Linked DNA regions of Homo sapiens: region 2 is linked to region 1. Evidence: fine-mapped expression QTL. A gene starts in region 1. The other region holds a variant in brackets. All regions are shown on one strand. Distances are from middle to middle. Region 1 holds the start of PLXDC1 (plexin domain containing 1). Region 2 overlaps PLXDC1 (plexin domain containing 1).

Region 1 (5,366 bases):
CTTTGGCCTTTTCGAGATACTGTTTTTGTCCTGGGTGTCGATTTTTCCTAAGCTGTTTGCTTTTACTCCTACTGGCAGACGAGGAGCAGTGAGGGACTGAAAGGAACTGGGGATTCAACAGCAGTGGCTCTCAAAATGTGGTCCTGGGACCAGCAGCATTACCTGGGTACGCTCGGGCCTCATCCCAGACCTAATGAATTAGAAACTTGAGGGTGGAGTCCAGAAATCTGTGTTTTCATATACGCTCCCCATCGCTTGAGTCCAGGAGTTGGAAGCTGCAGTGAGCTATGATCGCAGCACTGCACTCCAGCCTAGGCAACGTGCGAGAACCTGTCTCAAAAAACAAACAAAATACACACACACACACACACACACACACACACACACACACACACACACCCTGCAGGTGATTACGATCTCAAGTTCTAGAGGCTTACGTTAAAATTTACACATTTGCTTCTACTATTTACAAGTTTATGTTTCAGCCTGAGCTCTTCTTGTAAGACAGACCACGAGGTACCCCAGATGGAGGAATGTGCAAAGACGCCGGGGCTGGAGCTGGAATCCGTCCCGAGACTTCTCACCTTGACCTCGAGGAAGGCAGGAGGTCGGAGACAGGGGGTGGGCAGGCTGGGGAAAGAGGAAACCCGCAGGACAAGAGGGTTGTGGCTCGTCACGTGGCCACTTGAGGGCAGCAAGTAGCTGCAGCTGGAGGTAGCTGCCTATCTGATTCTGTTTGAGAGTCCGCCAAGTTGGGATTTAAATTAGACATCAAGAAGAATTTACAGACCGGCCTTGCCTTGTTCCACGGTAAGGGGACATTGGGTTTAGGGCTGGAGGAGGTAGTCTCTGGGACTCTGGGCCCGGCGGAAGGAGGAACCGGCGTTCTAAGAGATTAGAGAGCCTTTAGTTGTTTCCTTTCTTAGGTGTTTTTTTTTCTTTTCTTTTCTTTTTTTTTTTTTTAACCTCAGTGCCACGGAATCCGTCTCTTCCAGCCCACAGTGTACCTTCTCCTGTCCCCGCCCATATCCCTCCTCCTGGAAAATTTCTCCAATGGCGCTCAGCGTTCGCACCCTTCCTCTCCGCGGTTTTCTAGTCCCTAGGCCCCAGCCCACTAGAAGCCAGGATGCCCCCTCACCCCGTCTCCCACTCTCCAGCGCCCCAGCTCCTTGCCGTCACAAGAACGAAGTAGGTCAGGGGAGGGAAGAGGCATCTTCGTGTCCTGACCTGATTCCTTGCCGTCTATTAAATATCCTACATTGCGGGTATTTTTATTCTGTCCTGGAAGAAAAAATAAAAAGATTATCTATCCCCAGAGCCTGTCAGAAGGTGGTGACAGGTGGGGTGAGCCATTTCCTCGTCTGGGGCTGGCTCTGAAGATTGATTGGGTCTGGCCCTGAGTAGGCCTGGAGGCCCCAGAGAGGCAGGAGGCCTGGGTTACCTACTCGTGGGGAGGGGTCCAGACTGTTGCAGAGTAAGGGGTAGCCAGGCCCCCTCCACCCTCACGTCTGCTAGGCTTGGGGGGCAAATCGGTGCTGGAAATGGGGGGTGGAGGGATAAGGTGGAGTCATGGAAGGGGGGTGGGATTCAGGCCCCTCTTGGGGAGAAAAGCTGGGGGTCTTTGCTGCAGGGGGAGATTTCTGGGGGTGGGGGCTGGAGGACAAAGCATCAGAGACGCACAGAATTCCGAAGAACAGCTCAGGAAGTCGCAGAGCTTGGAGGAGCTGGGGGCGGGGAACAGTCAGGGGCCCGTGACCCAGGGATGGGGCGCCTGTCCCTTCCAGGGGTCCAGTCCTCGGGCCTTCTCTCTGCAGCTTTCCCGGCGGAACGGAGGAGGGAAAGGGAGCCAGGAGCTCAGTGAGGAGCGCGGGGCGGCTGATGCTTCTAGGGGTTCTCTCAGCCCGAGGGGCTCCCGCCCTGTCCCCTACTCTGCACCCCTTGCCTTGGGAGCGGCTGCAGAGCTCTAGGGGAGCGCTCCGTTAGGGCTGAGGGCAGGCGCCGGGAGAGCCCCCAACGACGCCGCGCCCCCCGCCCCGCCCCCTGCCCCAGCTCCCCCCCACCCCCACCGACCCAGCGGCCCCCCCAGCTCCCCGCCTGCTCCCGGAGGCCGCAGCCTCCAGCTCCGCTCGCGCTCTCGCCGCTCCTGCCGGCTCGCCCGGCCCCGCGCTCCGCCGTCTCCTCGCCGCCCGCCCCTCCGCCAGCCCCGGGGACCGCGCGGCCGCAGCCTGAGCCAGGGCCCCCTCCCTCGTCAGGACCGGGGCAGCAAGCAGGCCGGGGGCAGGTCCGGGCACCCACCATGCGAGGCGAGCTCTGGCTCCTGGTGCTGGTGCTCAGGGAGGCTGCCCGGGCGCTGAGCCCCCAGCCCGGAGCAGGTAGGACTGGCGGGAGCCGGCCCGGGTGGGCCGGGGGCGGGGAGGGACGGGCAGTCAGGTGTGGGCATGGGCAGGTGTGGACGGCCTGGCGATGTCCGCGAGGGGGGCATTGTCCGCAGGAGGCCAGGAGAGCTGTGGGCTGTGGGCAGGTGGATAGGGACCCCACTTTCCCAAACACATAGGGTGTGTGAGTGACGGTGGAGACACCGATGCCCGGACCTCTCCTTCTCTCCTGGAAGGATACTGGAGGGACCTTAGGAGAGGGGGCTCTATGTGGCCATGGGCTCTGAAAGGGGACAGCGGGAGAGTCATCAGGACCCCTGATCACCCCAGGCAAGGCTGAATTCTGATGAGATGGGAGCCTGGGGAGGCCCCTGCCCCAGCCATGCCTTCTTTTCCTCTTCTCTGCCACACCCCCGACCCCAAAGCTGATCCAGGCTAGGGATAGGTGGGAGCAGCCAGGGGGATGGTGGGGACACAGCGTCTCTGCCTGGGAAGGCAGCAGCCATTCGGTCACCTTCCCTTGCCTATTTGGTGTCAGTAGAGAGGCAGTGGGCCCAGGAAGAAGCAACTTGCTGCTTCTGCACCCCCAGCCTCAAGAGTCCCCCTCCTCACACCTGCTCCCATTTGCCCTGGCAGCCTTTGGCTTTCAGCTACTCTGGCTCTAGATGGGGCACTGGGGTAGGGGGTGGAGGGAGGCGTCCCATTCTGCACACTCCTCTTCCCCCCTACCAGTTCTCCAAACTCATCTCTCCCACCTGGAAGTCCTTTCTGAGATCTACCTGGAATCCCTCATGGTATAATTTTCATAGTCTCTGTTCTCCCCTAAGCACCTAGACTTTCTCTGGGGTTGGGGAGATGGGTAATTTGCAGCCTGGCCCCTCAGCAGAGATGATTAAGAAGATAGATACCTGTGCATCATTGGCATGGGTGCCCCTCAGGTGGGGTGAGGGAGGCGCTGTTGAGGTGAGTGCTGTGGTTGACCTGCTGTGTCTCAGGAGTGTGCTGGCACCAGGCACAGTGTCAGTGGCAATGTTCTTGACTTTAATGGTCCCAGCATGTAGCTGAGACAGACCTGGGTCCCTATTGAGAAGAAGAGTATGTTGGGGGTGGGAGGGGAAGGAGGCTGACAGTGGGAAGTATGGGCAGAGGGCAGTGGAGCTGACGAACCGAGAAGCTGCTGGTGAGAACCACCAATTTTCAGGGAGACCACACAGAGGGTGGCCAGAGACGTGGCTTCTAGTCCCGCCATCTCACTTGCTGTGTGACTTTAGACAAGTTACTTTCTCTCTCTGGACCTATTTTTGCATTTATAAAGTGAGGCTGTTGGCAAAATCTTTGACTCTTGTGCGTGGAATAATGAAGGATCTTTTATAATTGCCTTTCCTTTTCATATTTGTTAGGGTCTTTATGGGTAACTGATACTTTAAAAAAATCAAGGTAAACAGGAGAGAGTTGGATATGTTATGAATAATTTCTGGGCTCCTTTGAATCCTCAACCTGGTGTGATCTTCTGAACTCTGGGTGTAACAGAGTTTATGAGGGGAGGATCTGAACCTTTGGCTGGATTGTGTGAACCACGGAGAGGGCTGGGGAAGGGGGAATTGGGAGGTAACAAGGATGGGCTGGGAGATAGTGGCCAGACCCGGGCCTGGCTGAGGGCGGCCCCTTCAGAGTAGGGTTGGGGTAGTAGACGGTTGAGGAGACCAGGAAGAGTGGGGCAGGCAGAGACTTGAATCACTTCTCTAAGTAGAGGCTATCCTGTCTTCTTGGCTTTGACAGAGATTGAGCCAGGAGAAATGCACTTTTTCTGCAGCAGGAGGGATAGAGGTTAGACTTAAGGAATCTGTAAGAAGCCAGAGGCGGCAGCTGTTGACTCCCAGTCCGGTGCCCTTTTCACAGGCCAGGTGGGATTTCACAGGCAGGAGGACCTATGAGGAGGAAGCGGGTGTCTGGGGAGGCCAGATGTAGGAGAAGGACGTTCTGGGGGAGAGTTGCTAAGGAGGGGCAGCCTGACCTGATTGATGGCGGAGTTGTTGTGACCAGTGGAAGGGCAGCTGGGAGCAGGACCTGAAGAGATGCTAGCATCCTTCCCCAAGGCTCTGGGTTTGTGGGGCTGGTGGGGGGCCTTGGGAAGTAGCTGAGATCTCCCCTCGCTCCTGATGGACAGGCTTGTTTGGTAGAGCCTTGAAACCTCATCTATCATTAGAACAGCAGCAGCAGAGAGATGAGTGGCCCAAAGACAGAGTCAGACAGCAGGGGAGACCAGGATGACAGACAGGAAAATGGCCTTGGGGTGCAGAGCAGGGGCCCAGGGAACTGACAGTCTGGTCAGATGGAACCAGAGGTGCATATGACAGATAAAGAAGAGGCAGCGAGAGTTGGCATCCTGGCCTGGGAGTCCTGCAGGAGGCCAGGCTCAATACCAACTACTGGTGACCCTGACAGCTTCCTCCTTTCTCTGAGGAAGGTTTCCCCGTCTATAAAATGGGGGCTTGCACCAGTCACGGTGGCTCATGCTTGTGATCCTAACACTTTGGGAGGCTGAGGTGGGAGGATAGCTTTAGACCAGGAGTTTGAGACCAGCCTGGGCAAAATAGTGAGACCCCATGTCTATAAATGATTTAGGCCAGGCAGGGTGGCTCATGCCTGTAATCCCAGCACTCTGGGAGGCCGAGGCCGGCGGATCACCTGAGGTCAGGAGTTTGAGACCAGCCTGGCTAACATGGTGAAACCCCGTCTCTACTAAATATACAAAAATTAGTATATTTAGTATTGTTATTAATATTATTAATATTAGTATATTAGTAAAAATTAGCCAGGCGTGGTGGTGCATGCCTGTAATCTCAGTTACTCAGGAAGCTGAGGCAGGAGAATAGCTTGAACCCGAGAGGCAGAGGTTATAGTGAGCTGAGATCGCACCACTGCACTCCAGCCTGGGCAACAGAGTAAGACTCTGTCAAAAAAAAAAATTAAAATTAAAATAAAAAATTA
Region 2 (5,366 bases), 84 kb after region 1:
CCTGCCACATACCTGAGAAAACTTCATCCACCCCATCCTGGCACATTTCGAGATGGCTGGCGCCCGTTAAGTCCTGCACCCTGATAAATCAGCACCTCAGAACTCCCTCGGCCCTCCTGTCCTGTGGAACAGCCCCTCTGCTTTTGTTCCCCCATTTGTGAAATCAGAAAAAATCCCCAGAGGAAAGAAAGAAGGCCACAGTGCCACATAGTGCTCATCTAGTGGCTGTGCAGCCTATCTCCAGTGATTTATGGTCTCTCATGCCCAAATGCCAGGCTCAGTACTTACTCAAAGCCATGAGGGAACCAGGGTCTCTGCCTCTTTTGCCTACTGATACCTGCTTTTAAGGCTAAAATTGAGGGGCAGGTGCAGTGGCTCCTTCCTAAGATCCTAGCACTTTGAGAAACCAAGGCAAGATTACTTGAGCACAGGAGTTTGAGACTAGCCTGGGCAACAGAGTGAGACCCCGTCTCTACAAAAATTTAAAAAATTAGCCCAGCGTGGTGGCACGTACCTGTGGTCCCAGCCGCTTGGGAAGCTGAGGTGGGAGGATCCCTTGAGCCCAGTGGTTTGAGGCTGCAGTGAGCCCTGACCATACCACTGCACTCCAACCTGGGCAATAGAGGAGACCCCATCTCTAAAATAGAAATAAAAATAAAATAGACAAGCCAAATAATGATAAGAGCTGCCCTCTGGGAGCTTTAATTGAGGATACTAAGTTTTGAATGTCTCAATTCTGAAGAGCCAGCCTGAGGGGCAGCATGGGATGTGAGGCTCAGCCCCCTTCACTCGGGGCTGCAGAGCTCAGCAGCTCCTGCCCCCAGTCCTCCACTTCTGGCTTCTTACGAGTTCCCCACAGAGTGCAGCAGTGGTGCCTCTGTGACCCTAGTTTCTTCCACGTGGGTCACAAGCCCACCAGCCTCATTAACCCACAGGCCTAGGTCATTCCCCCAGTTTCTTAGGAGGCTTAGTCATTCTGAAGTCTTAGCCTACCTGGGTAACACCTGGGAACTGCAGATCCCTGGGCCACAGGGATTCTGATAGGGCAGGTCTAAGGCAGGCCCAGGAATCTGCATTTTATTTATTTCGAGACAGTCTCACTCTGTCGCCTAGGCTGGAGTACAGTGGCACAATCTTGGCTTACTGCAGCCTCCGCCTCCTGGGTTCAAGCAATTCTGGTGCCTCAACCTTCTGAGTAGTTGCGACTACAGGCACGTGCCACCACACTCAGCTAATTTTTGTATTTTTAGTGGAGACAGTGTTTCACCATGTTGGCCAGGCTGGTCTTGAACTCCTGGCCTCAAGTGATCTGCCCATCTTGGCCTCCCAAAGTGCTGGGATTACAGGCATAAGCCACTGCACAGGCCAGAATCTGCATTTTAATAAGCCCCCTGTTGACTCTGATGTGGATCCTGTGCTACCTTGGAGGGTTATCTTGGCATTTTCAGAGCCTCAAGCATCATGCCAGCCATCTCTGAGCCACTCCCTCACATTGCAGTCCTAGGTCTCCACTTGGTGTATTGCTGAACCTTTCAGCTGTGAGTTCTGCAGACCACACAGTGAAGGATAAAGTGTCCTCCTTCCACACTCTAGCTTTCGGCAGGTTTCCCAGTGGTTGGGGGATCACAGCACGGAACATTTTAGGGAGAGGGTCCCTGAAGGTCAGTTGTGTGGCTCCTGGTAGGCCCAAGTGCCCCAGGGCCCTTATAAGAGACAGTCTTGGTTGGCTCTGTCGCTCAGGAGTGTGGGGTCCCCATGGGGGCGGGGGCATGCCCACTGACTTTGCCTCTGTGCCTTCTGCAGCGTAGACCTCACCACTGGCCAGCCATGAAGTTTCGCAGCCACCCTGACCATTCCACCTATGCGGAGGTGGAGCCCTCGGGCCATGAGAAGGAGGGCTTCATGGAGGCTGAGCAGTGCTGAGAACACCAAGTCTCCCCTTTGAAGACTTTGAGGCCACAGAAAAGACAGTTAAAGCAAAGAAGAGAAGTGACTTTTCCTGGCCTCTCCCAGCATGCCCTGGGCTGAGATGAGATGGTGGTTTATGGCTCCAGAGCTGCTGCTCGCTTCGTCAGCACACCCCGAATATTGAAGAGGGGGCCAAAAAACAACCACATGGATTTTTTATAGGAACAACAACCTAATCTCATCCTGTTTTGATGCAAGGGTTCTCTTCTGTGTCTTGTAACCATGAAACAGCAGAAGAACTAACATAACTAACTCCATTTTTGTTTAAGGGGCCTTTACCTATTCCTGCACCTAGGCTAGGATAACTTTAGAGCACTGACATAAAACGCAAAAACAGGAATCATGCCGTTTGCAAAACTAACTCTGGGATTAAAGGGGAAGCATGTAAACAGCTAACTGTTTTTGTTAAAGATTTATAGGAATGAGGAGGTTTGGCTATTGTCACATGACAGACTGTTAGCCAAGGACAAAGAAGTTCTGCAAACCTCCCCTGGACCCTTGCTGGTGTCCAGATGTCTGCGGTTGTCAGCCCCTTCCTTTCCCCCGACCTAAACATAAAAGACAAGGCAAAGCCCGCATAATTTTAAGACGGTTCTTTAGGACATTAGTCCACCATCTTCTTGGTTTGCTGGCTCTCCGAAATAAAGTCCCTTTCCTTGCTCCAACTCCTTGTCTCTCAACGTATTGGCTATGACGCAGCAAGCAGAATGAATTTGGACTCAGTTACAGGCTGTCAATGGTCTGCTCTGTAGCAGTCTCAGAGCCTCCCCGACCCACTACCTGGAGATAGCCAGATAGCCAGATGCCCTGCTCCTGGCCACCTTTAAAGCCCCTGCATATGACACAGGTTAACTAAAGTCAAGATTGGGGCTGCTGCATTCCAGGTTCCCTAGACTCACAAGCTGGTCCTTGGCCAGGTGC[A/G]GTGGCTCACGCCTGTAATCCCAGCACTTTGGGAGGCTGAGGCAGGCGGATCACCTGAAGTCAGAAGTTTGAGACCAGCCTGGCCAACATAATTAAAATGTCTCTACTAAAAATACAAAAAATTAGCTGGGTGTGGTGACGCTTGCCTGTATCCCAGCTACTCAGGAAGCTGAGACACGAGAATCACTTGAACCTGGGAGGCAGAGGTTGCAGTGAGCTCAGATAGTGCCACTGCACTCCAGCCTGGGTGACAGAGCGAGACTCCGTCTCAAAAAAAAAAAAAGAAAGCAGATCCTCATGGCTATAGAGTTGGCATTTTAGCCCCAGCTTCTGTAGCTCTGAAAGCCTAAAGAAGGTATTCTCTCCATCTGTTAAACACAGTATAGTGGCTCTCAGCCCTTGGGGCATGTTATCATGGGAGGGAAGTCAAATAAGAGGAGAGAAAAGAACTCAAGGGGGAAACTGCATTTTTAGGCTTTGCTCTCTTACCTTGCCCTTTCTACTCAGAACCAATAACTTCTGCATCAAAACATGTTACAGCCTGCATCAAGGGCTTTACCCCAACCTGCAGCCCAGCCTTCCCTGGGTGAGCTTGCTATGCGCAGCCACATTTACCATGTGGGGCTCCCTATTCTGATGGCCTGTTCGGTGCCGGGTTTACTCACTGCCCTGTTCTGATGTCAGTGCCTGTACATACCTCCAAAGGCAGGACTTGCCTGATAAATATTTTTCCTCCTCTGAACTGGATTTTATAGGCATTAAAGACAAGTCGGGTGGCTAGAGGGCTCCTTGAGACATACCTAGCAGGGAACTGCAGGTGGATTCTGTTGAGAGGCAAAGCACCTGAGTGGTTGGGACACAGGCAGCTGGCATGGGAGGGACTTTTTTTGAGACAGGGTCTCACTGTGTCGCCCAGGGCAAGGATGCCCAAAGACACCAGGTTGGAGAGGCACCTGCCAACTACTTGCTTTCCCTGGAGCCTGCATGTGCCTGTGGGGTGGGGAGGCGTAGGGGTCTACGGCTGCCTGAGATGGGTGTGCACAGTGTGTGAAGTACCTACCTCCTTGCCTTGCTGGACTGTCAGCCAGTCGCAGGGCCGGCCACAAGACCCATGTCTCCATCTGGTCATACTCCATAGCTACCAAGTTAACCTGCTCTAAACTTTGGAGAACTGGATCTGTCCAATAAACGCTTATTTGGCCAAGCCTGATGGCTCGTGCCTGTACTCCCAGCACTTTGGGAGGCTGAGGTGGGAGGGTTGCTTGAGCCCAGGGGTTTGAGACCAGCTTGGGCAACAACAACAAAAATGCCAGGTGTGGTGGGGTGCACCTGTAGTCCCAGCTACTAGGGAGGCTGAGCCAGGAGGATCACTTGAGCCCGGGAGGTTGAGGCTGCAGTGGGGGGTCATAATCATGCCACTGTACTCCAGCCTGGGTGACAGAGTGAGACCCTGTCTCCGAAAAAAAAAAAAAAAAAAAGAACGGAAAAAGAAATGCTTACATTGTCAGGGATCCTGTAGACAATCATTAACTCTATGAGATGCTTGGTTCTATTTTTTTGGGAGACTTTGTCCAAGTGTTTTGGCTTAAGAAATCCATAGGCCTCTCTTGGTGACACATCTCTAGTACTTTTTGTCATAAACAAACAGGCCATCTGCCGCCAAATACATCCACTCCCCATGCCACTGACATCCTATGGGTCAGCCAGGCTTGCTTTGACTGAGGCCGAGGCATCTGGAACTTTCTCTGCCTGCAGGGGCTAGCAGCAGAGGCTTCACCGCATCACCACCCCTTCCTCCACTCCTGACATTCTTTCCCTTCAGGGATCCAAAATGGTTGGCCGAGCTCCCAGTGGGAAAACGTGTGCTAGAGTTGGGGAGTGAGATGAGTGGTGCTGTCCATGGAATCAGGCCACAGCAGGAACTGCCCCACTGGCCATTTGAGACACACACAGGTGGTAAATGCTCTGCTGGTGGGCTGTGCTTCCCTCATTCAGAGAGCTCTGTTACAGCCCACTGTGTCCTTTAGAAGCTTGAAAGGAACCCAACTCTTTGCTGCACTGTCCTTTTTCTTCCTCAAATTCAGACCCTCCTTCCACCGGCACCCCCCTACTCCACCCTCAGCTCTTCCTTGCCTGGTTTATCAAGCAGAGCTGAGGCCCCACGTTTCCAACTCTGATTGTCACTTGCATCTTCACAAAGGATAAACCACGGAGCAACTGGAAAACCATCAGCCAAGCGTTCGGATGAGTCTGGTTATTGGTCCACCCCCGACCAGATTCCCTTACACTTAACTCACTTCTTTCTTTGGCAATGACCCTCATGACATGTATAAATGGGTATGACTAAGAAGAGGCTGTGATCTAACATTTATTTGCTGCCATTTTTTACTCTGGGGAGAAGCAGCCCCAACTCATCACTGGGAAAGAACTCCCCCTGCAAACCAGCTAAATTTGATAATTTAAACCCCCTGCCCCTA

Evidence for each region. PIP is the estimated chance that this variant, and not a neighbour inherited with it, causes the effect.
Region 2: its variant is the best candidate, but not a certain one, in a credible set for the expression of PLXDC1 in blood mononuclear cells (TOPMed, PIP 0.60).

Annotation. Positions count from the first base shown.
Region 1 is chr17:39,148,368-39,153,733 of GRCh38, reverse strand. PLXDC1 (plexin domain containing 1) reads left to right here and starts at 2,097. Exons shown (of 14, transcript NM_020405.5): 1 at 2,097-2,372. The coding sequence starts at 2,297. RefSeq lists enhancers at 1-71, 444-593.
Region 2 is chr17:39,064,397-39,069,762 of GRCh38, reverse strand. PLXDC1 (plexin domain containing 1) reads left to right here. Exons shown (of 14, transcript NM_020405.5): 14 at 1,804-5,366. The coding sequence ends at 1,923. It also overlaps the pseudogene RDM1P5. Among named protein-coding and RNA genes, the nearest start is that of LINC02079, 40 kb to the right of the region's middle. The variant A/G (reference allele first, on the strand shown) is at 2,890.